7 linked regions of the Homo sapiens genome follow. The protein of the gene in region 4 purifies or fractionates together with the protein of the main gene of each other region. This does not show direct contact. Each region holds a gene or a part of one and is shown on either strand. Other genes may lie near its edges. The genes, in order: MAP1B, BOD1L1, TLN1, SLC26A11, VPS39, U2SURP and PDCD4.

What was found.
Region 1: the proteins of SLC26A11 (region 4) and MAP1B purify together in Homo sapiens (affinity purification with mass spectrometry; one large-scale study listed by BioGRID and IntAct). This does not show direct contact.
Region 2: the proteins of SLC26A11 (region 4) and BOD1L1 purify together in Homo sapiens (affinity purification with mass spectrometry; one large-scale study listed by BioGRID and IntAct). This does not show direct contact.
Region 3: the proteins of SLC26A11 (region 4) and TLN1 purify together in Homo sapiens (affinity purification with mass spectrometry; one large-scale study listed by BioGRID and IntAct). This does not show direct contact.
Region 5: the proteins of SLC26A11 (region 4) and VPS39 purify together in Homo sapiens (affinity purification with mass spectrometry; one large-scale study listed by BioGRID and IntAct). This does not show direct contact.
Region 6: the proteins of SLC26A11 (region 4) and U2SURP purify together in Homo sapiens (affinity purification with mass spectrometry; one large-scale study listed by BioGRID and IntAct). This does not show direct contact.
Region 7: the proteins of SLC26A11 (region 4) and PDCD4 purify together in Homo sapiens (affinity purification with mass spectrometry; one large-scale study listed by BioGRID and IntAct). This does not show direct contact.

Annotation. Positions count from the first base shown.
Region 1 is NC_000005.10:72,200,517-72,204,974, forward strand, and holds part of MAP1B (microtubule-associated protein 1B), read left to right. Parts: intron 1-3,046; coding exon 3,047-3,285; intron 3,286-4,458. UniProt on the Homo sapiens protein: Facilitates tyrosination of alpha-tubulin in neuronal microtubules. Phosphorylated MAP1B is required for proper microtubule dynamics and plays a role in the cytoskeletal changes that accompany neuronal differentiation and neurite extension.
Region 2 is NC_000004.12:13,571,898-13,576,355, reverse strand, and holds part of BOD1L1 (biorientation of chromosomes in cell division protein 1-like 1), read left to right. Parts: intron 1-3,513; coding exon of another isoform or gene 3,514-3,654; intron 3,655-4,458. UniProt on the Homo sapiens protein: Component of the fork protection machinery required to protect stalled/damaged replication forks from uncontrolled DNA2-dependent resection.
Region 3 is NC_000009.12:35,704,684-35,709,141, forward strand, and holds part of TLN1 (talin-1), read right to left. Parts: intron 3,802-4,458; coding exon 3,658-3,801; intron 3,210-3,657; coding exon 3,048-3,209; intron 2,806-3,047; coding exon 2,665-2,805; intron 2,571-2,664; coding exon 2,389-2,570; intron 2,218-2,388; coding exon 2,085-2,217; intron 1,869-2,084; coding exon 1,767-1,868; intron 1,684-1,766; coding exon 1,513-1,683; intron 1,429-1,512; coding exon 1,279-1,428; intron 1,169-1,278; coding exon 1,067-1,168; intron 988-1,066; coding exon 868-987; intron 133-867; coding exon 1-132. UniProt on the Homo sapiens protein: High molecular weight cytoskeletal protein concentrated at regions of cell-matrix and cell-cell contacts. Involved in connections of major cytoskeletal structures to the plasma membrane.
Region 4 is NC_000017.11:80,250,904-80,254,435, forward strand, and holds the end of SLC26A11 (sodium-independent sulfate anion transporter), read left to right. Parts: intron 1-425; coding exon 426-498; intron 499-1,721; coding exon 1,722-1,813; 3' UTR 1,814-2,597; downstream 2,598-3,532. UniProt on the Homo sapiens protein: Sodium-independent anion exchanger mediating bicarbonate, chloride, sulfate and oxalate transport.
Region 5 is NC_000015.10:42,201,076-42,205,533, reverse strand, and holds part of VPS39 (vam6/Vps39-like protein), read left to right. Parts: intron 1-4,458. UniProt on the Homo sapiens protein: Regulator of TGF-beta/activin signaling, inhibiting SMAD3- and activating SMAD2-dependent transcription.
Region 6 is NC_000003.12:143,007,682-143,012,139, forward strand, and holds part of U2SURP (U2 snRNP-associated SURP motif-containing protein), read left to right. Parts: intron 1-3,133; coding exon 3,134-3,178; intron 3,179-4,458.
Region 7 is NC_000010.11:110,874,546-110,879,003, forward strand, and holds part of PDCD4 (programmed cell death protein 4), read left to right. Parts: intron 1-1,420; 5' UTR 1,421-1,482; coding exon 1,483-1,525; intron 1,526-2,124; exon of another isoform or gene 2,125-2,198; coding exon of another isoform or gene 2,199-2,208; intron 2,209-4,458. UniProt on the Homo sapiens protein: Inhibits translation initiation and cap-dependent translation. May excert its function by hindering the interaction between EIF4A1 and EIF4G. Inhibits the helicase activity of EIF4A. Modulates the activation of JUN kinase.

The sequences.
Region 1 (4,458 bases), on a different chromosome or scaffold from region 4:
AGGTATATATCTCAGTCCAGTGTGGCCTTAAGGCTTGGAAATAGCTCAGTGTATGGTTCAAAGCAGCTGTGATTCATCACTGGGATTCCTGATTTTGTGCCGTTTTCGAACACAGCAACTACAGCCCTGTTCTAAATCTTCAGAACCAAGGATGTGTCTTTCAGGTGCTTCTGGAAGACTGGTTTCAGCCATACTGGCCTCAGAATCCAGCAGGGTAACACAGGCCAGGAGCTCCCAAAGGCCTAAGGAGAACCAGAGGTTTCACATCAAGACTGGATCAACCAGTCTAGACCCAAGATTTAGAGTCCTTTTTTAAAAAAAATTTTTTTTAAATTAAAAATGTTTACATTTTTATTTAAAACATCACCAGGTTGGAGATAAATCCTCATTAAAGGCAGTGTTCCATTTTCTTATCAGCCAAAAAATACTATAATTTCAGTTGACCAGTGAGTGTCCGGTGAAAATTGAGAGAAAAACATTGATGGCTCTGCTCTTACCCTTCTCTTACCCCATGGCCTCATTAGTAGAGACTCAATGCTATTTCAGATTAAAATTCCACTGGGAAGCTAGATGCATGGCCTCATGCCTGTAATTTCAGCACTTTGGGAGGCTGAGATGGAAGGTTAGCTTCAGCCCAGGAAGTTGAGACCAGCCTGTGCAACATAGCAAGACCCTGTCTCCACAAAAAAAAAAAAATGTTTTTTAATTAGCTGGGTGTGGTGGCACGTGCTTATAGTCTTAGCTACTTGGGAGGCTGAGGCAGGAGGATCACTTCAGCCCAAGAGATCAAGGCTGCAGTGAGCCAGAATTGTATGTATCACTGCATGCCAAGCCTGGGTGACAGAGCAAGACCCTGTCTCTCAAAAATAAATAAATAAGCAAATGAAATGCCACTTGGCAAGAGCAGGTATCCCTGATTTTTGATCATTCATGTTTTTGGTCATGATTCTCAGATTTATCAGGTTCTCAGCAATGACCTGGGCTTTTGATGGAACTGGTCTATGGCAGTACTGCTTCATTTTGTTGCTTCACATCAATCACAAGGATTGGCATTCATACATTTTATTTGCTTTAGGTAATTATTCAGAGATTTTTAGATCACAATTCACAAAGTAATGTAAATGGACCCAAACATGTAAGGCACAACATAATTTAAATAACATTGCCCTGATTTATTAGGGAAAATCTGATAGAGTAATCTTTGGAGCTCTCCAATTAAGTACACTTTAGGATACATTTGTTAAAACTGCAAATTTTTACTTTAAACAATATGGAGTATCAATTTTAAGGCTCAGTTCTCAGCACATTTGGCCTTTCTACATGCACATAGAAAATAATCGGAATTTTTTCATGTTTAAAATGAATGAAAAACCACCAGATAATTAACCCTTTCATCTGAAAGAGTTGACAACTGACCTGCACTTAGGAGAAAACATGAAATCCATTTAAACAGATAAAACCAACTGCAAATTTGCCAGAACATATACATCCTAGCCCACACAATTTTTAAAAAAACTTTTTTTGGACATTTAAAGAGGTAATTTAAAGGCAAAGTAATAAGTGAAAATGAGTTAATTTTCATTTATTTTGGAGATGCTTTTAGATGTCTAAAAAGGCAAAGTTGCAGTACTAATTGACTTTTAAAGCAAACCTGGGCAGTTCTGTCAGTTTGTGCTTCTGTGAGCAATATTCATTTGATGTTGATGGTAGTGATTTAGAGTAGAGGGCGAAATTGGCAGACATGTTTAATTACTGGAAGAACTGTAACTCACAAACTTCTAGTACAAGTCAGAATTCTTTAGGAATTCTTTGGATATTTTGAGGGCTTTCGGCTCAGATTCATTAAAATAAACTATTGATCTATTCATAGAATGAATTAGCTTATCCAATTATTACTTTGGCTGATTCTCACCACTCCCTAACCTCTCTAAAAATAAAACTGTACAGTTGATAGAATTAGCTGGTGGTTTTCAATCTGGGATGATAGTCTTTAAATATCCTATGGAGAAAGAGGATTAAGCATGTAAAATCTAGCTGGTGTTTTAATTGGCTTTACAGCAATGAAACCAGCTGCATATTAGAATCGCCTGGGGTGCTTTTAAAAGACAGTAGTTCCAGGCCCCAACCCAAGCCCACTTAAGTCAGACTCTAGAGAATGAGGCCTGGGTGTCAGTATTAAGCATCCGAGGTGATTCTGATTATATAGTCAGGCTGAAGAACCACTGCCTCAAAATGCTAGTTCTATTAACATTTCAAAAGCTTTAAACTTCCTAACTGGAACAAGTTAGTTTTCCCAGACCTTTGTGATTTGACTGGGGGTTTTGGTTGCAGTCTGATATGTCCTGATTAGCTAGAGAAAGCCTAGTCTTTCTGAACCTTCCTTTGCCCAAGTTTGGCATCCAGCCTTGTCTAGGGAAAGAAGTATCACTTTTCAGAATACTGTGCTAAGGAGAGAATATGGTGTTTCATCAGTTTATGAATGAGATGGAGGTGCTGAGGGCCTTGGAAATCATATGGGGTTAAGATCAAAACTATTTGCTAGGTAGAATGTTAGGGTATAATATCCAGCTGTGGACAAAATTGCTATCAATGAGACCCTAAAATAGAGCACTAAGATCACTTAGCTATGTTTTGCCAAATACAGACGTTTTCTTTTGACTTTTAAAATCTACTTCTTAGATCACTTATCAAATAAAGAAACACATTAACAACTTCTTTAGGAGGAGTATTATATCTAGTGCCATCTTGGGAAAGGCCTTCAAACTCTTCTTGCTTCCTAATATTGGTTGTCCACAAAGGGAAACTATCCCATTCTTCATTTCTCCTATTGAGGTGGTAAACAACCATGTTATGTTTTGTCACATTGCTAGCGTAAATGCCCTTGACAGATTACCAGGGAGATGGAAATGCTGTCACCACTTTGCATGTCTCAGAGGACCTACTTGTGATTGAATAGGGAAGGTGTGATTGAGTGGGGAACATGTGCTGGATGTATGGTCTCTTCACCTTGCTATGACCTTGCTTTGTCTTTGTTTATTTACCCAAGGACCAGGAACTACCAAGACGACCAAGTCATCTGCTGTGCCCCCAGGCCTCCCTGTGTATTTGGACCTGTGCTACATTCCTAACCACAGCAATAGTAAGAATGTTGATGTGGAATTTTTCAAGAGAGTGCGGTCTTCCTACTACGTGGTGAGTGGGAATGACCCTGCTGCTGAGGAGCCCAGCCGGGCTGTCCTGGACGCTTTGTTGGAAGGAAAGGCTCAGTGGGGCAGCAACATGCAGGTGAGAACTCCTCGACAGTGTCTGCACTGCCGATTGAGCTGTGTCCAGAGGCAATGGGAAGGAACCATGTTTAAAGAGGCACCTCATGTGGCTGATCGTGGATCCACATGAGGTGCCTCCTGTGTCTGTCACACACGAAATATCCTGAGAACAAAGTCAGTTTAACACACAGTAGGTAGTCTGAAATAATATTCTTGGCACCACCACCAACCACGGCCTTGGAGGAAAGACACCTTAACTAAAGCAGAAACCATTTATCTGCAAAATGGGCCTAAGATTAATTGCCCTTCCTCCAGTATGCCAAGAGTCTTGTGTGTGTGAATCAAAGCGGTCATATTTCCATATGAGAGCTCCTGAGGAATTGCCTTTCTTCCTTTGTGTTTTATGAGTAGACTGCGGCTAGGAATATGGCCATTTAGAAAAACAGCTCTCCATGTGAAATTCCACAGCAGGAGCATTGCTGAATATAGTCCCTCACAGGACACTCCCAACTCCCAAACATCATGCCTGACCACAAACCATCCCTTATTTATTTAATGACAGGGTCTCCCTATGTTGCCCAGGCTGGTCTCGAACTCCTGGCCTTAAATGATTCTTAGAACCAGCTATTATTAATTCAGCTGTGATCTTTGCTTATCAAGTTTTATTTGTGGTTCTGTACAAAATTACCTAGTAAATTGTGCTTGTATCATATTATATAGAATTACTTGTTATTTAATCATATGAAATCTAATGAGAGGCACCCAGTGGCTCCCTACTGAATGCTAGATGGAATTTATACTATTCAGGACATTACTTACCCACCCCATACCTCCATCCCCAACCACACACATAAAGTAAAGGTGCAGATCTTTGTTCTCAGGACAAAATGTTAGTTACTCACAATGAGTGGGCTTTTGAGGGCTTTGAAGTGCGCGATAAAATCCTTGGATTAAATATGCAATATCTTTTATGCAAAACTTACCAGTTGTGTTAAAGGAAATACAAAAAATTGTACCCTAACGGAAGCACTTCTCTTAACAGTAAAGAACTGAGAAACTGATTAATTGCTTTTTGGTTCCAGCCTTCAGTTTCCCTTAGAAACAATAGCTTTTCTTTGCAGCTTTATTCTGGTTCCTGGAAAATATACATTGAAAAATCCTTTGCATTTCTTGAGGAAAATAGAAAAGTTTT
Region 2 (4,458 bases), on a different chromosome or scaffold from region 4:
TATATTTCCCAAAATGTGTTCTCTCAAACCCTATTGTAGCCAGAAACCTCTGAGAAAAAGAGTACCACGGTCAGATGAGTTTGGGAATGTCATTGAATTCTCTCTCCTTCCTCAGTTACATGTTCATTAAAATATTAAGGGTTTGGCAAACTCCAGGGCTGGGCGCGGTGACTCACGCCTGTAATCCCAGCACTTTGGGAGGCCAAGGCAGGCGAATCACGAGGTCCGGAGATCGAGACCATCCTGGTCAACATGGTGAAACCCCGTCTCTACTAAAATACAAAAATCAGCCAGGCATGGTGGTGAGTGCCTGTAATCCCAGCTACTCGGGAGGCTGAGGCAGGGGAATTGCTTAACCGTGGGAGGCGGAGGTTGCAGTGAGCTGAGATGGCTCCACTGCACTCCAGCCTGGTGTTAGAGCAAGACTCCATCTCAAAAAAAAAAAAAAAAAAAAAAAAAAGGGTTTGGCAAACTCCTAAAGGAAAGAAGCCTGTTGAACTTTGTTTAAACAAGCATTATTTGCTGATACCACTTTTCTGTTGTTGGCCTATATCATTATACCTGTTCACATCATCCAGTGTTCCTTTCCCCATGGCACATTTGAGAAATGGTACATAACTGTATTGTCTCATCCTAACCGTTAATCACTTTCCCAAACATGAATATTTTCCAGGCTGAGCACGGTAGCTCATGCTTGTAATCCCAACACTTTGGGAGACCAAGATGGGAGGATCACTTGAGCCCAGGAGTTTATGAGACCAGCCTGGGCAACACAGGGAGACCCCATCTCTACAAAAAAATTAGAAAATTAGCTGGGCATGGTGGCATGCACCTGTAGTCCCGGCTACTTGGGAGGCTGAGATGGGAGGATCGCTTGAGCCCAGGAGCTTGAGGCTGCAGTGAGCTGTGATCGCACCACTGCACTCTAGCCTGGGTGACAGTGAGACTCTGTCTCTGAAAAAATATATATTTTTTTAATTTTTAATTAATGTGATTTACAAGCTATTAATCTTGGTATCATCTTGTTTAATTTCATTATTCAAGATTGATCAAAAAGTTCAGGAAGATTTATTTCAAAAATAACACTAACAGCATAATATAATAGTATCTTGTGTTTACATAAAGAACTAAAATCGGGGCTGGGCACAGTGGCTCACACCTGTAATCCCAGCACTTTGGGAGGCTGAGGCCGGCGGATCACGAGGTCAGGAGTTCGAGACCAGCCTGGCCAATATGGTGAAACCCCATCTCTACTAAAAATATAAAAAATTAGCTGGGTGTGGTGGCACGTGCCAGTAATCCCAGCTACTTGGGAAGCTGAGGCAGGAGAATCGCTTGAACTCGGGAGGTGGAGGTTGCAGTGAGCCGAGATCACGCCATTGCACTCCAGCCTGGGTGACAGAGTGAGACTCCCCGTCTCAAAAAAAAAAAACAAAAAAAAACAAAAACTTAAAATCAATCTGTTTCTAATTCCTCCAGACTTAACACAGTATTAGCCATTTGTGCCATGGTTTGATTTCTCAAAGAATCAGATTTTAGAGCCAAAGGACTCTAGAAGCTCACACGGCTAAAGTTATAAGGTGGTCTCATATTTGTTTTTTTAGGTGGAGCAGCTCACATAAATAGAAAAGAAGTCACAGAATCCAAATTGCTGCTGCTAGGAGAGGGTGAGGGTGCTGGAGCCCAACACCCATGCATTTGGGTATAGCATCCATCCCACCAGAATTACTGCTTCCCTTTAAAACAGTTGTGGAAAGTAGGGCTCAACTCAGAGAAAGTTCCATAGGCCTTCTAGCCATCTTCGAGTGAGTGTCTAGAAATTGCTCTCAGATTTGCCTTTTATAAATTCTTTAAAAATAAATCTTATTTGATTTATATGGTTCTGTAATCACCTGGATTATCAAAGCTCTTCCTTCATGCACTTTATAATATAAACTTTTGATTTACAAATGAGTTGTTTTCTCTCTAGTTTAGATTCCTTGGCATTGGTTGATCAGTCCCAGGGCTCTGGTGTCTTCATAATTTTACAAATTGTCTGAGTTGGGTGGGCTCTCAGTGGTCATGTAGTACCAATAGCCAGTCAGTGCCTGAGTCACTGCACCTGCAGCTCCTCTGAAAGGGTCTTCCTGCTTTTGCATGGACCTCAGTGGCAGGGAAAGCCACATCCTCCTTAGCATTCTCTGACTTGTGTTCAGTAGAAGCCGGCCTCCCTGTGGCTTCTACTCTTGATTCTAGTTCGACTTTCAGAACCTTCTGTCTAATTTTGCCTTACATATTTGAGGGCAGCTTCCAGGTCTTCTCTGCTTGCTTATTGAGCCCCTTCATCATCCCTGTTTGTGCTCATCAGTTACCTTTATCCTCTTTTAGAAGCAAATGTGCAGCTGGGCGCAGTGGCTCATGCCTGTAATCCCAGCTACTCAGGAGGCTGAGGCAGGAAGATTGCTTGAGGCTGGGAGTTCGAGACCAGCCTAAGCAACATAGCAAGACCCTCTTAAAAGAAAAAATTAAATTAAATTAATAAAATATAAAAGAGGCCACGCACAGTGGCTCACGCCTGTAATCCCAGCACTTTGGGAGTCCAAGGCTGGTGGCTCACTTAAGGCCGGGTGTTCAAGACCAGCCTTGCCAATATGGTGAAACCTCATCTCTACTAAAAGTACAAAAAGTAGCCGAGCATTGTGGCAGACTCCTGTAATCCTAGCTACTTGGGCAGCTGAGGCAGGAGAATTGCTTGAACCCGGGAAGTGGAGGTTGCAGTGAGAAGAGATTGTACCACTGCACTCCAGCCTGGGTGACAGAGCGAGGCTCTTTCTCAAAAGAAAGAAAGAAAGAAAGATAGATAGATAGAGGCTCTTTCTCAAAAGAAAGAAAGAAAGAAAGAAAGATAGATAGATAGATAGATAGATAGATAGACAGACAGACAGACAGACAGACAGATAGATAGAAGCAAACTCTGTATACCAAGTGTGGTCTAATGAATCCAGAAGAGGACTGTTCTACCTTATTTTCTGGATATTGTTCTTCAGTGTGCATCCTCATTACTGAGCCTCAAATTGAAAAATACACCAGCTAAACAAGTTCCTTTTTCAGAGTTTTTACTGGAATCAGAATTCCTTATCTGATTCTTGTGCAGTTGACTACTTGGGCCTTAACACTTAGCCTTGTGAATTGTACTTTCGTTAATCTTGGCCCTTTATTCTACCCTGATGAGCTCTTTTGTAATCTTTATTTTGTCGGCCAGTATATTTTCTATTTTTCGCAGATACATCTTTTTTCTAAATCACAATAAAATATCATGCACAGTAAGAACAAAGATAGTGTCACACAAGCAGAGGTAGTTGTAGATGACATTAAGATCGACTTATCAGCAGTGGTCAGGAAAACCAACCATTTTTCTGATTTTAGTTCCTATTGTTCTGACTTGCCCACAAGGAGCCTCATACTTCCTACAGAGTTCCAGGGACTGGAGTATTCAGTGCTACCATTGCCCAGTGTTTCTATAATCTGTTTCAGAAAGCAACATAGCAAGCCATCTGCACGTGCAACATCCAAACTTGGCAGCCCAGACACAGTTTCTCCTAGAAATCGCCAAAAATTAGCAAAAGAGAAGTTACCTACCAGCGAAAAAGTTAGTAACTCTCCCCCATTAGGAAGGTAAGTCCCTGCTTACACTTCAAGCCATTTTTAACCCCCTAAGACTATTTTTGGTACAATAATGCTTTCTTCCTAATTTCCTTTAAGATTTTGTCTCACCAAATAACTGTTTTTGGGGATCATTGGTTTCCAAGAAGAACAGGAAGGGCTGCAGAAGGTGTCTGTGTGGCCTCACCAGTCTGGCCTTGCCGCAGTGGACTGCCACACAGGCTTGTCCTTGACACCTGTGAGCCTTATCTGCCTTCTCCCATCCACCAAGACCAAAGGCAAGGCAGTGTGGTAAAGCATTTAACAGCCCAGAATCATTTCTGTTTTAGCTAGAGCATTGGAGAGGTGATGAGGTGATAAAGCTTCCTCTTTCAGGCACGGCCCCTGCCAGCTTACACCTTTCACTGCAGCCTTACTGGTCTTACTGCTTCCCAGAGGTGGTCCTGAGCCTTCCTTTCTTGCCTTTGCTTGAGCCAGTGAGGAGTGTCCTCACCACCAGCACCCCTAGTAAGTCAGATCCTTTCCGTCCCGCTTCAGCCCATTTTCATCTCTTCTTGCTGCACTTCTGGTCAGTACTGGGCACTTGAGATGCCACATAGCATTGGTTTGGTATATTCCTTTTATTTACCCCTCTGAGCTCTAGGTTTCTTTCTTGAGATAGGAATTTGTCATACTTTCTATACATTATCATATTCAAAAATAAAAGACTCTTCACTGTACACAAAAACTGTTTTGACCTCTTACCACATTTTCATCTTCACAGCATACTTGTATGTATGTGCTGTTTTCCGCACATTCTAGAAACGAAAGCAAACT
Region 3 (4,458 bases), on a different chromosome or scaffold from region 4:
CCGGGCACACTCTATGAGCTCCTTCTTGGTGTAGGCATCACTGGGGCTGCACTGCAGGGCGCCTGCCTTGGTGACCAGAGCGGCACAGCCATGGCCCAGCTCCTGTACCCGGTGTTTGATATGGGAACCTATCTGTGAGCCAAGGGAAAGACAGATGGATTTTACAAGGGGCACTCAGGGTACCTTCACTGTGCTTGGAAAAGTCACTAAGGACATAGAAAAAAACATGCATTGTAGACTAAAGAAGCAGAGAGAGAAGGTTCCCAGCACAAGGACGTTTCCGGTTGCATATCCTTTAGGCAGAAGGTCACCTCCTACACACAGAAAATAGTAGCACGCAGGCACTAAGTGGTGAGGATTGTGTTAAGCACAGTGGGGAGAAGGGGAGGAGCACTTTATGCTTGAATGTGGGAATCAGAGGGCCGTGGATTACCATGTGGCCTGTATGGGGTTATGGAGGGTTTTAAGGATGGGCATTACATGTGTCCTGCTAAGATCCAATTACTTGCTTTCTTGGAAAGCTAGAGGCTTAGGTAAGGAAGAGCTTCATGAGTTTGCAACAAGAAAGAACAAGAACATGGACTGGCAGCACAACAGAGAAGCAGCTGTAGGCCCAGATGAGGGTCGGCAGAAGCCAGAAAGGCAGGCCCGGGAAGGCTCCAGATTCTGAGCTGTTTCCTTTGTACCTGTGACTGAAGGCTTTGATCCTCTGTCCCTACCCAGAGCCTCACTAGTCTTCAGCAGAGTGGCCCTGAGGCTGTTCCCCTTTCTATGAAAGACCAGAGAGGGTGGGGGTGGGACAGCCCTAGACACTGACACATCAGGAACAAGGGGCAGGGGGCAGGGCAGAGTTGCCTCCACGTTTACCTCTTCATTTTCAGCAGCCACCGCTGCAGGCTTGGCCTCCGAGGCCAGACGGCCATAGTCACTGGTCAGCTGGTTAGCAAGAGGGCCCAGCTCCTCTGGGCTGGTGTTTGACTTGGTAACCTGGTGATAATGGAACGAGTGAAGTTATATCCAAAGTCAGCTCTCCGAGGGCAGTCCTCTGGGACTCGCCCAAACTCACCATCTCCTGAACGGTCACTGCAATGGCCTTGGCTGTCCGCACCATAGTTGTTTGGTAATCCACGAAGGAACCTTCTGGTTCACCCATTGGTCCTTCATCTAGCTGAGGGGGGAGGATAGGGAAAGGGAAAGACTGTTAGGGTCTCTGCCACTGTGCTTGGAGGCTCTGGCCCAGGGTAGCCTCAGTGTCCAAAGGCACCCCAAGACTCTAACCTGGTTGATGGCCTGGGTGATGGAGTCCACCATGCCACCCACGACCCCAGCAGCACTGGCTGCCTCGTTGAGGGTTGTTGTCAGGTCCTCTACGGCCTCGGTCATCATCTGCACAGCCTCCTCCAGGGCTTCCTGGGTGTGAGCTGCTTGCTGTGGGGAGAGGAGAGGAGCTCTGTTGTTCCTGTTTCTCCAGCCTCCTGCTAGTAACAGCTCCTCCCTCCCAACCCTCAATACCTTTGGGTTACCACCAGCCTCCTTGGCAGTGTATAGCAACTGCAGGGCAGACTCTGCCAATGTTTTAGTCTGGTCCAGGAGTGCCATCTGCTGCGGGTGGCTCAGGGTCTTGGAGGCAGCACCCACTGCAGCCAGGGTGAGCGGCTCAAAGTACTGCGCCATCTGGGACACCTGAGGCAAGGGGTTGGACTAGGGGTCAGGTCCCCTCTCTCTCACCCTACTCCCTGGGACTTCCCATGAGTCTCCATAGGTACCTTGTGTCCCAGCTGGGAGGCTTCAGCCCGGGCAGCATTGGCCAGCGGCTCAATGAGATGGGAGATCTCTTGGACTGCAGTGAGCATCTGAGTGTGCAAGGCCTGGGGAGGAAGTGGACATTAGCCCTGATGGTGACCTGCAATAGGACCCTCTGGCTACAAAGAACTGCTCTTCTGTCCATACCAAATACCCTAACCCTCCTTCGCACATCCCAGCCTTTGATGTCCCTAAGAAGCCACTCCTTGATCCCCCAGCTTCTTTGAGTCTGATATTTCTCTTCCTAGACACATCTTTCCATATAACCCTCTCCCTCTCACCTCTTGAGAGATTCCCTCACGGGGAGCAAGCTGCTGGCTGACTGCAGCGAGGGAAGCCTGGTCTAGGTCCCGTAGACAACTGTTCAGAGCTGCAATGGCCGTTTCACACTCCAGCTGCCCTGGAGCCTTGTCCCTGCAGACACATCATGGGCTCCAACACCAAGAACATCCCCTACTGCAAGGCCAGCCTATCCTTCCCCTGTATCCTCCCAACACCATCCCATCTCATTGCACTCAAGTGCCCATCCTCCATTCTGCCACAATGTATGCCCCCCAGCCACACTGGTTCCCCATCCCTCAATACCTCATGCTTGTAATTAGCTTCTTGATGGAGTCTGAGACAGTACGGGAGTGGCCGGCCAGCACCGACCAGCTCGGGGGGTCCCGGGGATTGACTGCGAGGGCCCGGGCTGTCTGGATGAGTCCCCCGGCACTCTCTAACATTGTCTTGGCAGAGATCACAATGGGCTCCATGGCAGCCCGACCCTGGGGAGAGGGGAGGCAGGAAGGTAAGTCTCAGGAGTCCCTGGAAGATGAGGTGATAAGCTGGCCCATCAGTTCCCCCTTCACATCGCCTCACCTCAGGGCTGATCTGGGCAGGAATGCTGGAGAACTCAGGGTTGGACGCAAAGGCACTCAGATTGTCCACAGCCTCCAGCAGAGGGGCTGTTGCTGCTCGGCACTGGGCACGGTTCTCCTCTGTGAAGGCCCCATCTAGCGCCTAGAAGTGACAGAGAGGCTCTCAGGACTTGGGATGCAGTCATAGGGGGTATAGGAAGTGAAGTCCAGGTCTCCTTCCTGGGACTTACAGGATTTGGGGAGAGGCTAGGTGGTCAGTCTGAATAGAAAGAGCTTGGGCTCAGGCAGAGGGGATTTGGTAGAAGGCTTCAGAGAATAACTGGGGGACTCGGGGGAGAAGATAGGACAGGTCAGGGAGAGGCTGGGAATTCAAGCAATGGGAACCTTGATGGTCTTGACAAGATTAGCTGTGCTGTTGGCCACCTCCTTGGCTGACTGTACAAACTGGCGCTTGGCAGTAGGATTGGTGGTACGGGCAGAAGCCAGGCGACAGCTGTTACACAGTGCAGAGGTGTGTTTAGCCACAATGGTGGCTGCAGAGAGCACCTGAGGAGACACATGGAAGAGCCACGATGAGGGCAGGAAGGAGGTGTACATACCCAAGGAGGAGCCATTTTAGGGTCAGGGGATGGAGAGCAATACCCTGAGGAGTCAAAACAGGAATAACAGAGTCACCTGAAAAGTCAAGATCTAGGAGACAGAGATACCCAAAGATGAACTGGGCATGGGAGAGGAAAGACATACTAATGGAGAAACCATAAGAGGGCATGTGGGAGAGTAAGCTCGAACATCTACAGAGAAGTTGTGAATTTAGCAGTAACTGATAAATGATGAGACCCATGGCAGAAAAAGACAGTTACCCAAAAAGAAGCTGTGTGTGCAAGGTCAGAGATGGGTCCCTGCCCTCTTTCCCACATGCCTCACCTCCCTCTACTCCACGGGGTCGGTCTGCCCTTTCCCAGACTCGCCTGTGGTCCCTGTTCCCTTGAGTTACCTGGGCCTGGGTACAGCCAGGCTCTCCCAAACTCTGGCAGGCCATCTGAATTGCCTGGTTTGCACGGGCAAACTGTGTGGGCTCCACTAGCCCTTGCTGTCCAGCTTGGCTATTGGGGTCAGAGACACCAACCAGATATGCAGCCTGGGAAGAGAAAAGGGGGTGGGGGTGAGGAATAAAGATTGCAGGTGGGAAATGAATAGTGATAGTAGGGACAAAAGAGAGCAGAGGTAAGTTTAGAGAATAGGGCTTATTTTCCAGAGTTCTCCATGAGTGGAGATACATTAGCAAACAATGGTTACACTATAAAGAAGAAAAAAAATACTCTCCTGTTTTCATTAAGTATATTCAAGCATTTCAGAAGATTAAAAAAGTTAATAAAAAGGAAAACTACATAGCAAGGGTTTTTATCCAATCTCTATTTAGATATGTTTGTGTATGTTGGGTCTTAGAGTGAAAAGTATGGCTTACTGTAAGTAGCAGTAAAACGTTTGAGAGCCATATATAAATACACACCTTTGTGCACACAAGCAAAGCCTCTTTTAAAGACAGTTCAAAACTGATGAAGGTTATTAGGCTAATTCACATTTATAGCACCTCCATGCGTCAGATATTTGGAAAGGAAGGGAGGGGTTAAAAAGCCATTTTTATGATGGAAAGAACATCCTAATGTTTGATTCATACTTCAATCAATACACAGTAGCTTTGCTTTTTCCTCTATGCATTTTCAGAAGGTGGGGGGAAAAAAACCAAACAAACAACAAAGAGGTTTAGTGAAACCCTGTCTCTACTAAAAATACA
Region 4 (3,532 bases):
GCCGAGGTAGGAGGATCATTTGAGGCCAGGAGTTTGAGACCAGCCTGGGCAACATGACGAAACCCCATCAAAAAAATAGGAAAAAATAGCTGGACGTGGTGGCGTGCACCTGTAGCTACTCAGGAGGCTGAGGTGGGAGGATCACTTGAGTCTGGGAGGTTGAGGCTGCAGTGAGCCATGATCGTGCCACTGCACTCCAGCCTGAGCAATGAGCAAGACCCTGTCTCAAAAAACAAAAAATTAAAAAAAAAAAAATCTTCCTCTGACAGCATTCCCCTGGGGCTGCGTTTCTTCTCACCATTCACTGGTATGGAGGTGAAGCCATACCTCTCCGGGAGACTCTGAGATGGCAGGTCTACCAGGCTGCCGACCCGTGTGCTACAGAGGAACATCCCTGCCCTGGCTAAAGTCTGTCTGTCTCTCAGGTCCCCGTTCTCCGTGTCCTGCTGTCCGCTGACCTGAAGGGGTTCCAGTACTTCTCTACCCTGGAAGAAGCAGGTGGGCACAGTCAGACATCCTGTGGCTTTGGTGATTTTGTAAAAATCATAAATGCTTATTGTAAAAAATATGGGAAACCAGCTGGGCACAGTGGCTCATGCCTGTAATCCCAGCACTTTGGGAGGCCGAGGCAGGTGGATCACCTGAGGTCAGGAGTTCGAGACCAGCCTGGCCAACATGGTAAAACCTCATCAGTACTAAAAATACAAAAATTAGCTGGGTGTGGTGGCATGCACCTCTAGTCCCAGCTATTCGGGAGGCTGAAGCAGGAGAATCGCTTGAACCCAGGAGGCAGAGGTTGTACTGAGCCGAGATTGTGCCACTGCACTCCAGCCTGGGTGAGAGAGCGAGACTCTGTCTCAAAAAAAAAAAAAACAAAAAAAACAGGAAACCACCTCCACCCCAGTCCACTTTGGTGATCACTCCATACCCCTCCCCTAAACACGCATATGTACCTGCCTGTCAGGATGTGGATATATGTTTGCGGTTTTACGTAAATGGGACCATTTCATACCTGGTGCTCTGGAACCCACATTTTTCATGCAGAAGGTTGGAAGGATGTCCTTCCAGCCGAAAGTCCACATCCCGGGGGATCAGGACAGAGCAGGGCCGGGTCAGGAGATCCAGAAGCCCCGGGACAGAAGGTACGGGAGGGACAGGAGCAGGGTGGGCGCTGACCCTTGAGACAGCAATCGCAGGAGGTCTGAGCCGCAGCAGGTGTCAACAAGAGGATGGGCCAGAGATGCAGAGCATCCACCCCAGGCCACACAGCAGTGGCCAGAGGGTCCCAGGCCCCAGTGCTAGGCCTCTTCCTCTTCCACTGAGGTCACAGCTGAAGCTGGGTCAGCTCCGTGAGAGTGAGGGGTGGCGGATGTTGTACTGACTTCCTTGGCTCAATGTGACGTCAGGGAGATTCACCCATGTTGTTGTAGAATCAGCTCAGATGCAGTGCACTGGAGGTGGATAAGCAGAATGTGGCCTGGCCGTGGGATGGGAGGGTACCCTGGAGCAGTAAGAAAGGGCCGTTAGTCACCTGAAAAATACGCTTACAGAGACTCAGGTGAGACCCTCATGGAGTTAGTGACACTGGCCTGGGTGGCCCACAGCTCCTTCCTGCACACCTTCCAGGACTCTGGAAGGCCCTCCTTAATCCCTTCCTGTGAACTGACCCATCCTCACTTCTGAGCTTTTAGTGCTTGAAACATTTATTGTATTTTCTGCAGAGAAGCACCTGAGGCAGGAGCCAGGGACCCAGCCCTACAACATCAGAGAAGACTCCATTCTGGACCAAAAGGTTGCCCTGCTCAAGGCATAATGGGGCCACCCGTGGGCATCCACAGTTTGCAGGGTGTTCCGGAAGGTTCTTGTCACTGTGATTGGATGCTGGATGCCGCCTGATAGACATGCTGGCCTGGCTGAGAAACCCCTGAGCAGGTAACCCAGGGAAGAGAAGGAAGCCAGGCCTGGAGGTCCACGGCAGTGGGAGTGGGGCTCACTGGCTTCCTGTGGGATGACTGGAAAATGACCTCGCTGCTGTTCCCTGGCATGACCCTCTTTGGAAGAGTGGTTTGGAGAGAGCCTTCTAGAATGACAGACTGTGCGAGGAAGCAGGGGCAGGGGTTTCCAGCCCGGGCTGTGCGAGGCATCCTGGGGCTGGCAGCACCTTCCCGGCTCACCAGTGCCACCTGCGGGGGAGGGACGGGGCAGGCAGGAGTCTGGGAGGCGGGTCCGCTCCTCTTGTCTGCGGCATCTGTGCTCTCCGAGAGAAAACCAAGGTGTGTCAAATGACGTCAAGTCTCTATTTAAAAATAATTTTGTGTTTTCTAAATGGAAAAAGTGATAGCTTTGGTGATTTTGTAAAAGTCATAAATGCTTATTGTAAAAAATACAGGAAACCACCCCTCACCCTGTCCACTTGGGTGATCATTCCAGACCCCTCCCCAAACATGCATATGTACCTGTCCGTCAGTGTGTGGATGTATGTTTACAGTTCTACATAAATGGGATCATTTTATACATGGTGCTCTGGAACCCACATTTTTCATGCAGTCATTTGCAGTGAATTATTTATTGTGATAATAAATAGCATTAGAATACAAGATTTTTAATGTCTGCGTGGTATTTTGGTCTATATATGCATCATAATTGACTTACCGAGCCCTCTGTTCAACGTGTGCGTGGGTTAGAGACGGGATCGTGCCTCCTTTAGATGTGTCAGTTGAAGCCCTTGCCCTCTATGTGACTGCGTTTGGAAACAGGGCTTTTAGGGGGTAACTAGGTTTAATGAAGGTCATAAAGGTGGGCCCTGAACCGATAGCTTTAGTGTCCTCGTGAGAAGAGACGCCAGAGAGCTCGTTCTCTGCACCCTCACACCCCAGGGAACTCCATGAGAGGACACGGCAAAACCAGGCCATGCGCCCACCAGGAAGAAAGGCCTCATGAGGACCCCAGCCTCCAAAACTGGGAGAAGATGAATCTCTGTGCTAGGCCCCGCAGCCTGGGGTGATCTGTGACGGCGGCCTGAGCAGGTGAGGACTGCCTGCATGTTTGTATTTTTATGAATGCTTTGATTGAGTCTGGGGGTAAATCCCTGGAGGCCTGTGGCAGCCTCAGAGGTGTGTTCTCCCTGCACTTTCTTCAAGAAGAATGTGGCCTGCCCTACTGAGCCTCGTTCTGCCCGTTCTGCCCGGGCAGTCCCGGCCAATGTCAGCGCAGCAAGGGGAGGGCCTCTGTAACCAGGGCTGCTGGCTGCGGGGCTCCCCACTGGACACGGGAGTGGACATTGGAGTGTCCTTCATCCGCGTCACTCTTCCAGGTCCCTTGCCTCCTCCCATTTTCCTTCCTTCCTTTCCTTCCTTCCTTCCCTTCCTTTCCTTCCTTCCTTCCTTTCTTTCCTTCCTTCCTTCCTTTCCTCCCTTGCTCCCTTCCTTTTCTTTCTTCCTTCCGTTTTTCTTTCCTTTCTTCCTTCCTTTCATTTTTTTCTTCCCGTTCTCCCTTTCTTCCTCCCTCCACCCCTTTCTTCTCACTGTGTTCC
Region 5 (4,458 bases), on a different chromosome or scaffold from region 4:
ACCAGTCCCACACAGCCTTCTTTGTTCCATCAATGCACAAAGCACATACCCACCTCAGGGCCTTTACATTTGCTGTTTCCTTGGCCTGGCACTCACTTGCCTTTGTATATATGGTTCATTCCTCATTTCACTCAGTTCTCTGCTGAAATGTCACCCAAATCAGCAAAACCTTCCCTGTGTATCCTATATAAAAGAGATTGCCACATCCACCAATGTGCTGTTTTCTTAGCCTTATCTTCTAATCATGGGTCACCATCTACTGTTATTTTATATATTTAATTATTATTGCCTCTCTCACTCCACATTAGAATATAAGTTCCCTCAGGGCAGTATCTTTGTTTTCTGCATTGCTATATCTGCAGTACCTAAAACATTTCCTGACTCAATGGGTATTCATTAAATATATATTTAATGAATAATGTTAATATGAATAGTAATAGCTTGCAGTTGTTAAATGCTAATCTGTATTAGGCTTTTATAAAATAAGACTCCATTTTACAGAAGAAAGACCTAAGGCTTAGAAAATTTAAGAAATTTTTCCAAGGTCACATGTCCTGTAAATCATGTCTGCTTCTAGAGCCTGGTTCTCAAACTTGAATGTATATTCAAAGCCTGTAAAAAATGCAGACTTCACATGTATATATGAGTATCTGTATGTCTATATATACATACATACCTATATTTTCCAGAGAAACAATGGAAAGATAAGTCAAAAATTACTAAAATGATGCCCATAGCAGAAGGGAGAAGAGAGGATAAAATGGACAATGATAGAAACTAGACTTTTCGTCGTTTTAGCTTTGGAACTACATGAATGTTTCATAAAAACAAATAAAATTTAATTTAATTTTATTTTATTTTATTTTATTTCATTATTATTTTTTGAGACTGAGTCTCGCTCTGTCGCCCAGGCTGAAGTGCAGTGGTGCAATCTCAGCTCACTGCAACCTCTGCCTCCCAGGTACAAGCCACTGTCGTGCCTCAGCCTCCCGAGTAGTTAGGATTACTGCCACCCACCACCATACCTGGCTTATTTTTGTAGTTTTAGTAGAGACGGGGTTTCGTCATGTTGGCCAGGCTGGTCTCAAACGCCTGACCTGAGGTGATCCGCCCACCTCGGCCTCCCAAAGTGCTGGGATTACAGGCGTGAGCCACTTTGCCCAGCCAACAAGATTAAATTTTAAAATGTAAATTTCAGGGTACCACTTCAAAGCCATTGAATCTGAATCTCCATGTGCAGGGCCCAGGAATGTGCATTTTTAATAAGTCCAGGTGATTCTAATGCAGCTAATTGGGGGCTTATGCCCAGATGAGAAGTACTGTTATTTGCCATGTTACCCAACGAAGGGAAGTGACTACTATCTTACTTATCTTTGTGGTCCCTGCAGTGGCCAGCATTGGGCCAGAAATGGAATTTATTACATGAAGTTGGACTGCATTGCACTGTTGGAAGGAGCTCCATTAGGGTAATTATGAGCAATAGGGCCTAGCCCTCCTTCTCAGGAGGAATTAAGTCCAACCTTGTGGCTCAGGGTTAGGCCGTCAGGAGTTTTTTAGGGCTGATACTGCTTTGCTTATGTGTGCGTTTTGTGTTTGCTTAGTATGTCTCACTTTCTGTTGTGTGTTACTGTATTGAGTCTCAGAAGGCACTGTCCATCCCATGCTGCGCGTGCTCTGCAGGCTTGTCATCCTCTGTGTTGTGCATGCACAGCTTTGTTAAATAACGTGTCCTAGAGAGTGGAGGACCCAACATGGGACAGGTCCTCTGGCTAATGGCACATGTAATCAATCAGGTTGATTTAAAAGTTTACAGAGAATTTAATCCATCGGATTGATTCCCTTTTATGACCAGTAGAATAGACATTTTATTTTTTTAATTAATTTTTTTTTTGGAGGCAGAATTTCACACTTGTCACCCAGGCTGGAGTGCAATGGCGCACAATCTCCACTCACTGCAACCTCCGCCGCCAGTGTTCAAGTGGTTCTCCTGTCTCAGCCTCCCTAGTACCTGGGATTACAGGTGCTCACCAGCACACCTGGCTAATTTTTTTTTTTTTTTTGAGACAGAGTCCTGCCCCGTCACCCAGGCTGGAGTGCAGTGGTACGATCTCAGCTCACTGCAGCCTCTCCCTCCGGGGTTCATGCAGTTCTCTTGCCTCAGTCTCCTGAGTAGCTGGGATTACAGGCACACACACCACCATGCCTGGCTAATTTTTTTTGTATTTTTAGTAGAGATGGGTTTCCACTGTGTTGGCCAGACTGGTCTTGAACTCCTGACCTCAGGTGATCTGCCCGCCTTGGCCTTCCAAAGTGCTGGGATTACAGGCATGAGCCAACCACACTCGGCCTAATTTTTATATTTTTTAGTAGAGACGGGGTTTCACCATGTTGGCCAGGCTAGTCTCAAACTCCTGACCTCCAGTGATTCGCCCACTTCGGCCTCCGTGCCCGGCCCCTAGACATTTGACTTTTTAAAATGTTTTGTCATGTCTTAGTTTGGGTTCACAAGAAAAAAAAAAAGTAAATTAAAAAATCTATTGGCAAGAAACATTTCAATAAAAATGGAAAATAGACTCTTGAATGTCATGTTTAGGAATTTGACTTCATATTTTGGTAGTGTAGCTTCACAGGATTTTTTAAGCCCCAGTGTGACAGCATCAGAGATCTGCTCTAAGATAACTGACAGCAAATGCGAGAGAATGCATGGAGTGAATGAGACCAGTTGAAGGTGTCACAGGGGTCCCCAGAGAGACTCTATAGGAGGAGGCTGTCATGAGGTACCATTACAGGTAGAATTGATAGACCCTGGCCGACTTGGGAGGAAGCTGAGGCTATTAAAAAAGATAAAGAAAAGCAGGAACTGGCAGGGATTTGGGGGACAGAGTGGAGAGAGAAGGATGGGGAAGATGATGAACATTATGTTGGCCTTTTGTTTTGGTTGTAGATTTTTATGTATGTTATGAGTGGATTTTTAAAAAATTTCCACTTCATTTTATTTATATCTGAAATATCAGTGGGTGGCCTAAAAATCAACTTTAATATTGCTAAATTGCTTGATATCATGATATCTATAAAGTTCTAAATATAGTATCTTTTACAAAACAAATATTGCAAAATGAATTCTTTTATTTTTTCATGTTCTGCTGCAGCATAAATCTCCAGCCTTCATTAGAGCTGCTGTTATTTCTGATTTCAACATTTTTTTTGTGTGTGACCTGCCTTTCCTTTAAGACCCCAAATCAAAGAAAATAGAATCACTCTGTTTTTCTGGATGACTAAGAACATCATCCTGGAGAAATACTATTGATCCTTTGGATAAGGAATGTAGGTGCTGACCTGTTTTTATAAATATAACTACTGCCATTCAGACAACCTTTGGCTGACACCCATTTTTTTTGACATGGGTGCCTTAGTAAGTACATCACAGCATGTGGTTGGGAATCAAGACAAATTGGGGTTGGGATCCCAACTCTGCTGCTTGCCACATGTGTGACTCTGGAAAAGTTATATATTCCCTAGGCCTCAACTTCCTCATCTATAAAATGGGGATTTGAAAAAAGGACTTACTTCAAGGGATAGTTGTGAGGATTAGTGAAATAACAGATGCGTTTAGCATTTCCTGGAACACAATACATGCTCAATAAAAGTTATCTATTTGTACCATTATCCAAGATTTTATTTTACAGAGGTCAAGAATCAAGAGAGTTTATGAAAGGAATGAGTGACCTTTATGTTATCAAAAAGCTAAGGAAGTATCTGTACATGCTTACCTTCCTTGAATGATGTAATATGGGTCTGTCAGGGTAATTATTTAAACTCTTTCTGAGCCTCTTTTTACCTAGACCAGTGCCTCCCAAAATGTGGTCCTTGAACCACCAGCATCAGCATCATCTGGGAAGTTGTTAGAAATGAAAATTCCTGGGCCTACTTTTAAACCTACTAAATCAGATGCTCCGGGGTAGAGCCTAGCATTCTGTATTTTAACAAACTCTCAAATAATTGTGATACACTAAAGTTTAAGAACCACTAGCCTAGACCATCTTTTAAAATGTACAATTTGGCTGGGCACAGTCGCTCACCCCTGTAATCCCAACACTTTGGGAAGCTGAAGGGGCATTGCTTGCGGTCAAGAGTTGGAGACCAGATTGGGCAATATTGTGAGCCCTCATCTCTATAAACATTTTTTAAAAAATAGCTGAACGTGGTGGTGCATGCCTGTATTTCTCGCCACTCAGGAGGCTGAGGTGGGAGGATCACTTGAGCTAGGGAGGTGGAGGCTGCAATGAGCCATGATCACACCACTGCTCTCTAGCCTGGGCAACAGAGTAGAACCCTATCTTAAAAAAATAAAAGTTAAAAAAAAGTGTACAATTAAATGGTTTTTAGTACATTCACAGAGTTATGCAACTATCAGCACAATAAATTTTAGAACATATTCATCACTTTCAGAAGAAACTC
Region 6 (4,458 bases), on a different chromosome or scaffold from region 4:
ATCCGCCCGCCTTGGCCTCCCAAAGTGCTGAGATTACAGGCGTGAGCCACCGCGCCCGGCCGACTTCAGGAGATCTTTAGGCATCATTGGTTTGTGTTCTTCAGTTAAAAATAAAAAGCCAAACTCAAGACAAAGAATACAGTTCAGTTCCAGGTTAGGAAGAGGGAGAAGCTCAGCTTCTGAAGTAGTGCTATATTTACTGTTTACCTTGACTGTTATCTTTAGAAGTTGATGATTATTTTAAAAATTGTGTTAACTGCTGTTTGAACTGTTAAAGTTCCGTGCTGAATGCTATGTAGCTGTAGGTATGTATCAGTGGAAAATGTCTGGTTTGCAGTAAATGTGATTAGTGACATCTTAAGCTAACTGAAATCAGCTGGTGCATTGTCCTACACCGGTGCATTGTGCTACACTATGCTGTTACTGCTCTGTTTGCAAATTTATCAAATTGTGTAATTTTGAAAGCTGACAAAATTGTTACTTTTGAACTGATTATTTTTGTATTAGAGATTATTTAATTTGGTGAATGGTTACGCAAGTGAGATCCTTGAAGATTATAGAGCTTCATCTTTTGATGACTTGGAGTCAGGGAAGAGTTAACTATATGGAAATAGGCAGAATGCCTAGGTTCTTGTATCTTTTGTTTTTAAATCCTAGAAATGATGATTTGGATGTGGTGGCATCAAAGACTACAGAAAGGGTAGCGCTTTCTTAGTTATTCTTTTGGATGCTTATTCTTTCTGGGTGAACTTTAGAATTGTTTTGGCAATTCTTTTGCCCCCTTGCAAATATTTCCCTTTGGAATTTAGAGCGGTTGAATGAAATTGTATTAAATATGTAAAGAAATTTAGGTGTCATTGACATTATCTTAATATTGAATTTTCCCATCCAGTAATATGAATCTTTTGAAAAGGTGGCTTGAGTAACTGGATTTTTCTCGAAGTTTTTGTTTTCTTCACAAGGGTTATATACATTTCTTAAATTGGTTTCTAGATGTTTTTATATTTTTTGTTGCTTTTATGATTAGGATGTTTTTGTTGCTTAGCAAGTTAATACTGGTGTATTGGAAGGCAATTGAGTTTTTTTTGTTACTATTGTTTGTTTTTGATATGGAGTCTCTGTCGCCTAGGCGGTAGTGCAGTGGCGCGATCTCAGCTCACTGCAAGCTCTGCCTCCCGGGTTCACACCATTCTCCTGCCTCAGCGAGTAGCTGGGACTACAGGCGCCTGGCTAATTTTTGTATTTTTAGTAGAGATGGGGTTTCACCAGGTTTGGCCAGGATGGTCTCCATCTCTTGATCCACCCGCCTCGGCCTCCCAAAGTGCTCGGATTACAGGCGTGAGCCACTGCACCTGGCCCAGGCAGTTGATTTTTTTCAGTCCCTTCAGCCTCTTGCCTGAACTTGTTTTTCTTTTGTAAGAGTAGTTATTTATTCTTTTGGATTTTTAAATTTCTAGATATTTGTAAATTTATGCATTTCAAGATATGTTTCAGGGTGTGTTTCATAGTTAATAAATACTAAAAATTTTCTTTTATACCACCTTGACATTTAAGAAAGATTAGCCGCTAGAAGAAAATCAGGGTGGACACAAAAGTTGGGGACAGAAAAACCATGGACAGAAAGAGTGAGATGGGGCCGGGTGCGGTCGCTCATGTCTGTAATCCTAGCACTTTCAGAGGCTGAGGTGGACAGATCACCTGAGGTCAGGAGTTCGAGACCAGCCTGGCCAACGTGGTAAAACTCCGTCTCTACTAAAAATACAAAAATTAGCCAGGCATGGTGGTGCGTGCCTGTACTCCTAGCTACCCAGGAGGCTGAGGGAGGAGAATTACTGGAACCCGGGAGGCGGAGGCTGCAGTGAGCCGAGGTCGCGCCACTGTACTCCAGCCTGGGAGACAGAGTAAGACTCTGTCTCAAGAAAAAAAAAAAATGAAAGAAAGAATGAGATGGGAGGGGTCCCAGTGCTTGGTTGTCCTGTTGTCCTGGGCTGATTTTTGCCTATGCTAATGCGCAATACAGTGGAGTTCAGAGGAGTAAATTGATTCAGTGTAAAAATCTTACCAGCTGTTCTTAGCCTTATGTCTGGACAATGTAAATAAAACAATACTGTATGGATCTTTGCTCTTTTTTAAATAACATGAATCTTCAGTTTTTCTCTTAAACTAATATTTTATCTTGTACTTTATATGACATCTTGTCTGGGAGTTGGGGTCAGGTGAGATATTTGTGATCTCAATATTCTTGATTTCATTTGAACATTTGACACTTAAATATATAAATAAAAACAAGTAAAATTTCACTACCGTATACCCTCAAAAATAAAAACAGCTCAGTGACAGTTATATTTTGGATCCCCAAGTAAAAATTCTTGGAGAATCTTTCTTTCAGAAAGATAGCATACATTATTTAGTTAATCGTCCTACAGCTTGTCATCTTTGTCTTTACATGTGTAGTGGCAACAAGTTATTGCATACCATGTATAATCTGATAGGTAGATCACTTAAGAAAAGTTGAAGTTTTAACAGTTGACATCACTGGAAGATATTATATGAACTCTTTCTCATGCCACCAGGCAGCCTGTGACATGCTATCGAATCATCTCCCTTAAAACGAGTTGTAAATGGTGCCTTATTGGGGATTTGATAATATTTTCTGGAACTTTGCAGAATTTGTACCTTTTAATAGACAGCAAGGATTTATATGTGGATTTCTTTATGTGGCTTTGGGTGATTAGAGAAAGAGAGTTCTCGTGCTGTGGACCAAGAAGTTGCTGGGCAGTGCTGTGGCAGTAAACGATGCATCTATGATTAGGAAGAGCTTTTGCATAAAACTGTGTAAAAATGGTGGTTAGGTTTCCAGTGTATACTATAAAGAGGTAATTTTGCCTCATATATATCCCACTAGTGTTTATTATATTTTTGGAAATATGCAGGCTGAATTTTAAAGAAATGACTTACACATTTACTTTGTATCACAATCTTTTCATAAGTCAGAGACTGCCTTTGCTCAGTTTTATTAGCTGAGGAGAAATTGCCAGAAGTTAGGAAACTCTTAAGTTTGTATAACACGAGAGACATGTTTTGTTAGTATAAGACATTTTAAATTATTGACTTTTATTTTTGATACTTGTAGACGAGATCATCAGATGTTCATTCATCTGGATCTTCAGATGCACATGTGAGTATAGAAGGCAATCTTTGTCTTTTTTCCTTTAAAATTTAACTTCTCCTCATATGTATCCCTACATCAATGATTTTACTTGACAAATAAATACAATTGTATGTGCTTTTTTCTTTTACTCTTTTTTTTCTAGGCGCCTTCCTTTTTTTTTTTTATGTTCTGCTTGCATAACTTAGCCCTCTGAAGCGATGTTAGAAACCTAGTATGTATATTTCCTTATGATTTTTATTGTGTAAAAATCTGTACATACATAACGTATCTATACTTATACTTTGACTATGGGATTGCATTATGCATATGCCTTTCTCACCGCACAAAACATATGTTGGAAATCCCTGCAGGTAAACTGTTAACAGCTCTAATCTGTTCTTTCTTAAGGCATCATAATGTTCTGTGGTGGGGAAGTGCAGTTGTTTGTTATTTCTTTGTTGATGGGCATATATTTTTTGTTTAAAGCTTTCAAGTAACATTTTGGATAGATAATACTACAATAAGTATTTTTTTAATATATGTTATTACAGCAGTGTTCAAAGTGTAGTCTGAAGACCCCTGGAGTCACTGAGAATCTCTGAGAAGGGTCTGTGAATTCAAAACTATTTTGTAATAATACTAAGGCATTATTTATGCCTTTTTCACCATTTTGGCATTTGCACTAATGCAAGTGTAGCTGGAGGTACAAAAGCATTTGGTGGGTAAACTGTTGGCACTTCAGCACAGATCAAGGCAGTGACACCAGAGTATACTTGTAGTCATTATATTCTTCCCCACCAGGCACAATAATTTCACTTAAAAAACTAGCATAATTAGAAATAATTTTTACTGCTTGATGATGCAGTAAAAGTTACTACTATTTTACTACTTCATCAAGCAGTAAAAATTATTACTATTGTCTTCATCTTTTGTGTAGTTCGTCTTAATATTCTGTGTGATAAAATAAGAAGTACGTATAACACTTATGCTTACCAAAATGTGATGTTTGTTTGAGTTGAGAAATGAAACTAGCTGCTTTTTTCATGAAACACCAGTTTTACTTGGGAGTGACTGACAGGCAAACTATGGTGAATCAGACTTGGGGATTTTGGCAGACATTTTCTTGAAAATGAAGGTAACGAACCTGTTACTTCAAGGAAAACAACTGTTACCAATATAAAATTCAAGCTTGTGAGTTAGAGTTATTGAAAACTTTCCCTGTTCTTAAGAACTTTTTTGGTGAAATCAATGGTGATATTAAGGGATGTGATATTTTGATAATCTACAATGAAATTTGTCAATATCTG
Region 7 (4,458 bases), on a different chromosome or scaffold from region 4:
TGGCGGGAGTTATAGTGAAAAGTGATTATAAAGATTCACATATATTAATTTATTCTTAACAGAATTAGAGAATGATCTCACCATTTTCTTAAGTTCCCAAGCAATATGATAGCATATTAGTCTGAGGATTATACCATAGTAAGAAGCCTATAATTTTAACATAAGGTCCATTTGTTTTTGTTTCACAAAATAATACCGTTTTCTGAAGAAAAGGGCTATAAACTTATGTTAGCAAATAGTAGTACATAATGAGGAATTTAAAAGTCAGTTTCACCTTTGAGTCCCAGGAGGCTCTGTATATATCATTGTTATCCTAAAATGACATCTAACAGTAGGTTAAGTTATATAGGAAAAAATGTGCTTTTCTGTAATTAATTTATTAGGCATTTTCACTAATTTGTGCATTTTATATCTCTGAAGAGCACACTGCTAGCAACCTGATTGTAAATGACCAGAAGGACTTATATCCAACCTATGTGACTTAAACATACACTTAAGTACTCTAAACCACTATTTAAAAAATACTTCTAGAGAGATTCTGAAATCTTAATTTGGTTGCACTTTCTGGTAATATATTTTTTGAAAACTATTTTGATATTTCTTTCATATAACATTATTGGATCTGTATCACTAAGTTAATTGTCTAAAAGGTAACTGATTTCATCAAACCTTCCAGTATTAATAATTTTTAAGCCATTTTGAAACTGAGGCCTAAAATACTGAAATGCTTATGTCGTTGTACTTACTCCTTTCTGAAATGATCAGATTTTTAAAAAATGGATTTCTCATATAAATAATATTATCAAAAAAGGATTTCTCATATAAATAATATTATCAAAAAAGCTGATTTTAAAAGTTTCTCCCAAAGTCTTATTCTAGTAATTATAGAGACCTAGGTAATGAGTGGCAGATATATCTGCCTTTCAGATATGCCGTAATGTGAAAAATAACACAGTCATGTGATATTCTTTATTAACTAAAACTGTGTTGTTTTTATTTTGGAGTAGTTCTCATAATTCATTGGTAGGGAACTATCCAGTATTTATATTCCTATGTATGTATATCAGATTAATTTTGAGGCTTGGTATTCCTAAAAGATTTGGATGTGTGTATTTCTTTAACTTGACGTAAACATGTATCACAAACATATCTTTTAATTCCAATTAAAGGGGTGCTTTGGCACATGCTGAAATCTGGGATTTTTTTTTTTGACTTTGATAAATTTATCAAAAAGATTGGAACCAAATGTTAATTAGGGTAAGTTGTCTTTGAAAGTAAAGTGAACTGTTTTATTTAATGGAATTGTGTGTTTTTTGTTGTTGTCGTTTGTTTTTACAGTGTGCTTAAGTAAGTTTAATTCAGCTTAATTACATCAGTTTAAAAGATCTTGAAGCTTTCTTTTTTTCTTTTAAAAAAACAGATTCTGAAGGAAGATTTCCATTAGGTAATTTGTTTAATCAGTGCAAGCGAAATTAAGGGAAAATGGATGTAGAAAATGAGCAGATACTGAATGTAAACCCTGCAGGTAAGTAAGGATATCCTTTTTTCTTTTTTTCTTCGTTTTGAGACAGGATCTTGCTCTGTCACCCAGGCTGGAGTGCAGTGGTGTGATCATGGCTCACTGCAGTTTTGACTTTCCTGGGCTTAAGAGATCCTCCCCTATCTCAGCCTCCTCAGCAGCTGGGACAACAGGTGTGTGCCACCACACCAGGCTAATTTTTTATTTTTTGTAGAGATAGGATTTCACTATGTTGCCTAGGCTGAAATATCTTGAAGCTTGACTATGTTGTGAGGAAGCTTCAGACCATTCCATATTTTATAAAAACATGATAGAAAAACTATCTTTAAATACTCTTTTATTCATGCTGTAAGAAAACAGGCTATATTATTTTTAAAGTCAAGTTTGTGATTTTTATTTTCATGGAAATTCATTACATGTCCTATTTTTCTGCCTATCCTTTCACATTCCACATATTCCTATTCTCTGTTATATAGTACAGAATAGAGAAGAATAGTGAGCCTGCTTATTTTCACATGGGCTAGTTAGTGATTTCTGTAATATAAACTTACTGGTATCTTTGGTATCTTTCCTAACAAATAATTTTTATATTCTAAATTACCTAGGGTATTTTCCCTAATTCTCCATGGTGCTTCAATAGCATGTTATTATCATAAAAATGAACAGTTTTGTGGAATAGATGACCAAATGTGAGTAACTCAAGATAATTTAAAATGTATTTATAGTTTTAAAAATAATCTCCCAAAAAGTTAATTAGAATTGTGTAATATCTGAATAGTGAGAACAGTTCATATTGGTATACTTTGGATAATTCTTTGTCTTATAATTTTATTAATATTGAAAGCTATTTTCTGTCATTTTAAGTGTATTTCGTAACTAAATACTACATCTTTCTTTCCTCAGTGACTTAACTCACTATTGTTTACAATGTACATAGTTTTCTTTGATCTGAACAAACATGTTGAATTTGAAGCTTCTTTACCATTGTTTATTTACAGATCTTTTTAAAGTATGGTAAAAAATTGAAAAAAATTTATGTAATTAATGATCATTTCTGTGCTGCTGTATACAATAGCTGTATGAGTATGCTTTAGGGTTATAAATGGATAATATGTACCTACTTAATTGAGATGGGGATGGTAATACAGTTTAGAATATATTTTACATATAGGTAATTGCTTCTTTTCTGCACTGTCCAGTATGGTGACCACTAGCTACATGTGGTTATTACTCCTGGGCTCAAGTGATCCTCCCTCTTCAGCCTCCTCAGTAGCTGGATTACAGGCGTGTGCACCACTGTGCTTAGCCACATGTGTTTGTTGAGTACTTGAAATGTGGCTACTCTGAGTTGAGATGAAGGTCAACTATCTCAATAATTTGTTATATTGCTTGCATGTTGAGATGATATGGTTATATTAGATTAAATAAAATATATTTAAATTAATTTCACCTGTTTTTACTTTTTAATGTGGCTACTGGAAAATTTAAAATTTCTTATATGGCTTGCATTCTATTTCTATTAGAAATAGAAACACAGCTTTAAAATGTGTACTTTTTGTTTCCTAACTACAATAAGACCTAGTTCTAACCCTGTTCTTGGTGCTTGTGTCCAGCACTGCTTTAAAATAAAAGACTTGTTCTTCAATATTTGAATAGGCCTAAGATAGACCCTCTTTGTAGTAAATTCTTCACATAGCAAATAGTCCAAGTCACACTCTTACTCTTTTACTTGGAGGAAGTAGGTTATTCTGACCTTCAGTTTTTTCATGTATAAAATTGGGATATAAATACCCTCTGTATAGATTTATAATTAGGATTTAGTGAGATATTGTATATGTGTGTTAAGTCTGTGAAGCACATACTAGGTATGTAATACATGAAAGTGTGGTAATGTTATTCTAATTATGCCACTCATTGGACACCAGTAATTGAAAATGTGATTTTCTGGTGCTGTGGTCATATACAATTGGAGTGGTTACTATTGAGATATCAGAATTCAGAAAGAGGGAATTAGTACACAGTAGGAAACAATTTTGAAGTCAATCACATTCTGTACTCAGCTTATCATTTTAATTTTGGTTTTCTTAAAGTCAGCTCAATAGGGGTTATGGAACTCCAACAGTTAGGTGAGTATGAGTAACAAAATATAAAGCAATTAATACAAACATGGGTTAAAAATGATAAGGTCAAATATATAAATTATACTGAGAGAATGTTTACTGCTGCAGAGACACAAACATACTTGAAAGGATGTTAAAATTGTTGAAGAAAAGAAAACTCGATTATGGGAAATAGATGTATTTAAATTGAATACTCCAAGGGACAGTTTAAGACATTTTATTATAGTTCTGACTCCTGTGTCTTCTGGACCAGTTTTGTGGTTCACCTTAATGGCACAATGATGAAAGCACTATGTTACAGGTAGATGTTTAATGTTTTTCTCAACCATCCACTCTTACACGAAAATGTCATCTAATTTATGTGATCCTGATCTTTCTGTCCCCTTCCACTTAATCATTTTTGTTTATCTCTCTTTACATTCACGCCCTTGTTCGTCTCTTTAGCTGTCAATACTCTGCTGTATTCTAGTTTTGTATTTTCTGTAGTTATATGGGATTAAAAATGTGGGTTTGAATTCTAGCCATAATCCTTTCTAGATATGTAACTTCTTGTGAAACACATTCCTTCTGTAAAATGAGGATAAACAGTTTCTTTCTAGAGCTCTTGAAGCTTATAGACCACATATGTAAAGTGCCTTAGCTAATAGGTACCAGGTAGTGTGGAATCTAATAGGTACCAGGTAGTGTGGAACCTGGTATCTAATAGATGACAATAGTAATGGTAATGATGAAAGAAACAGTACTACGACTACTTCCACTAAGACTATAATTACTACTGATGGTTATGATGATGTCCCAAACACACCATCCTAACACCGG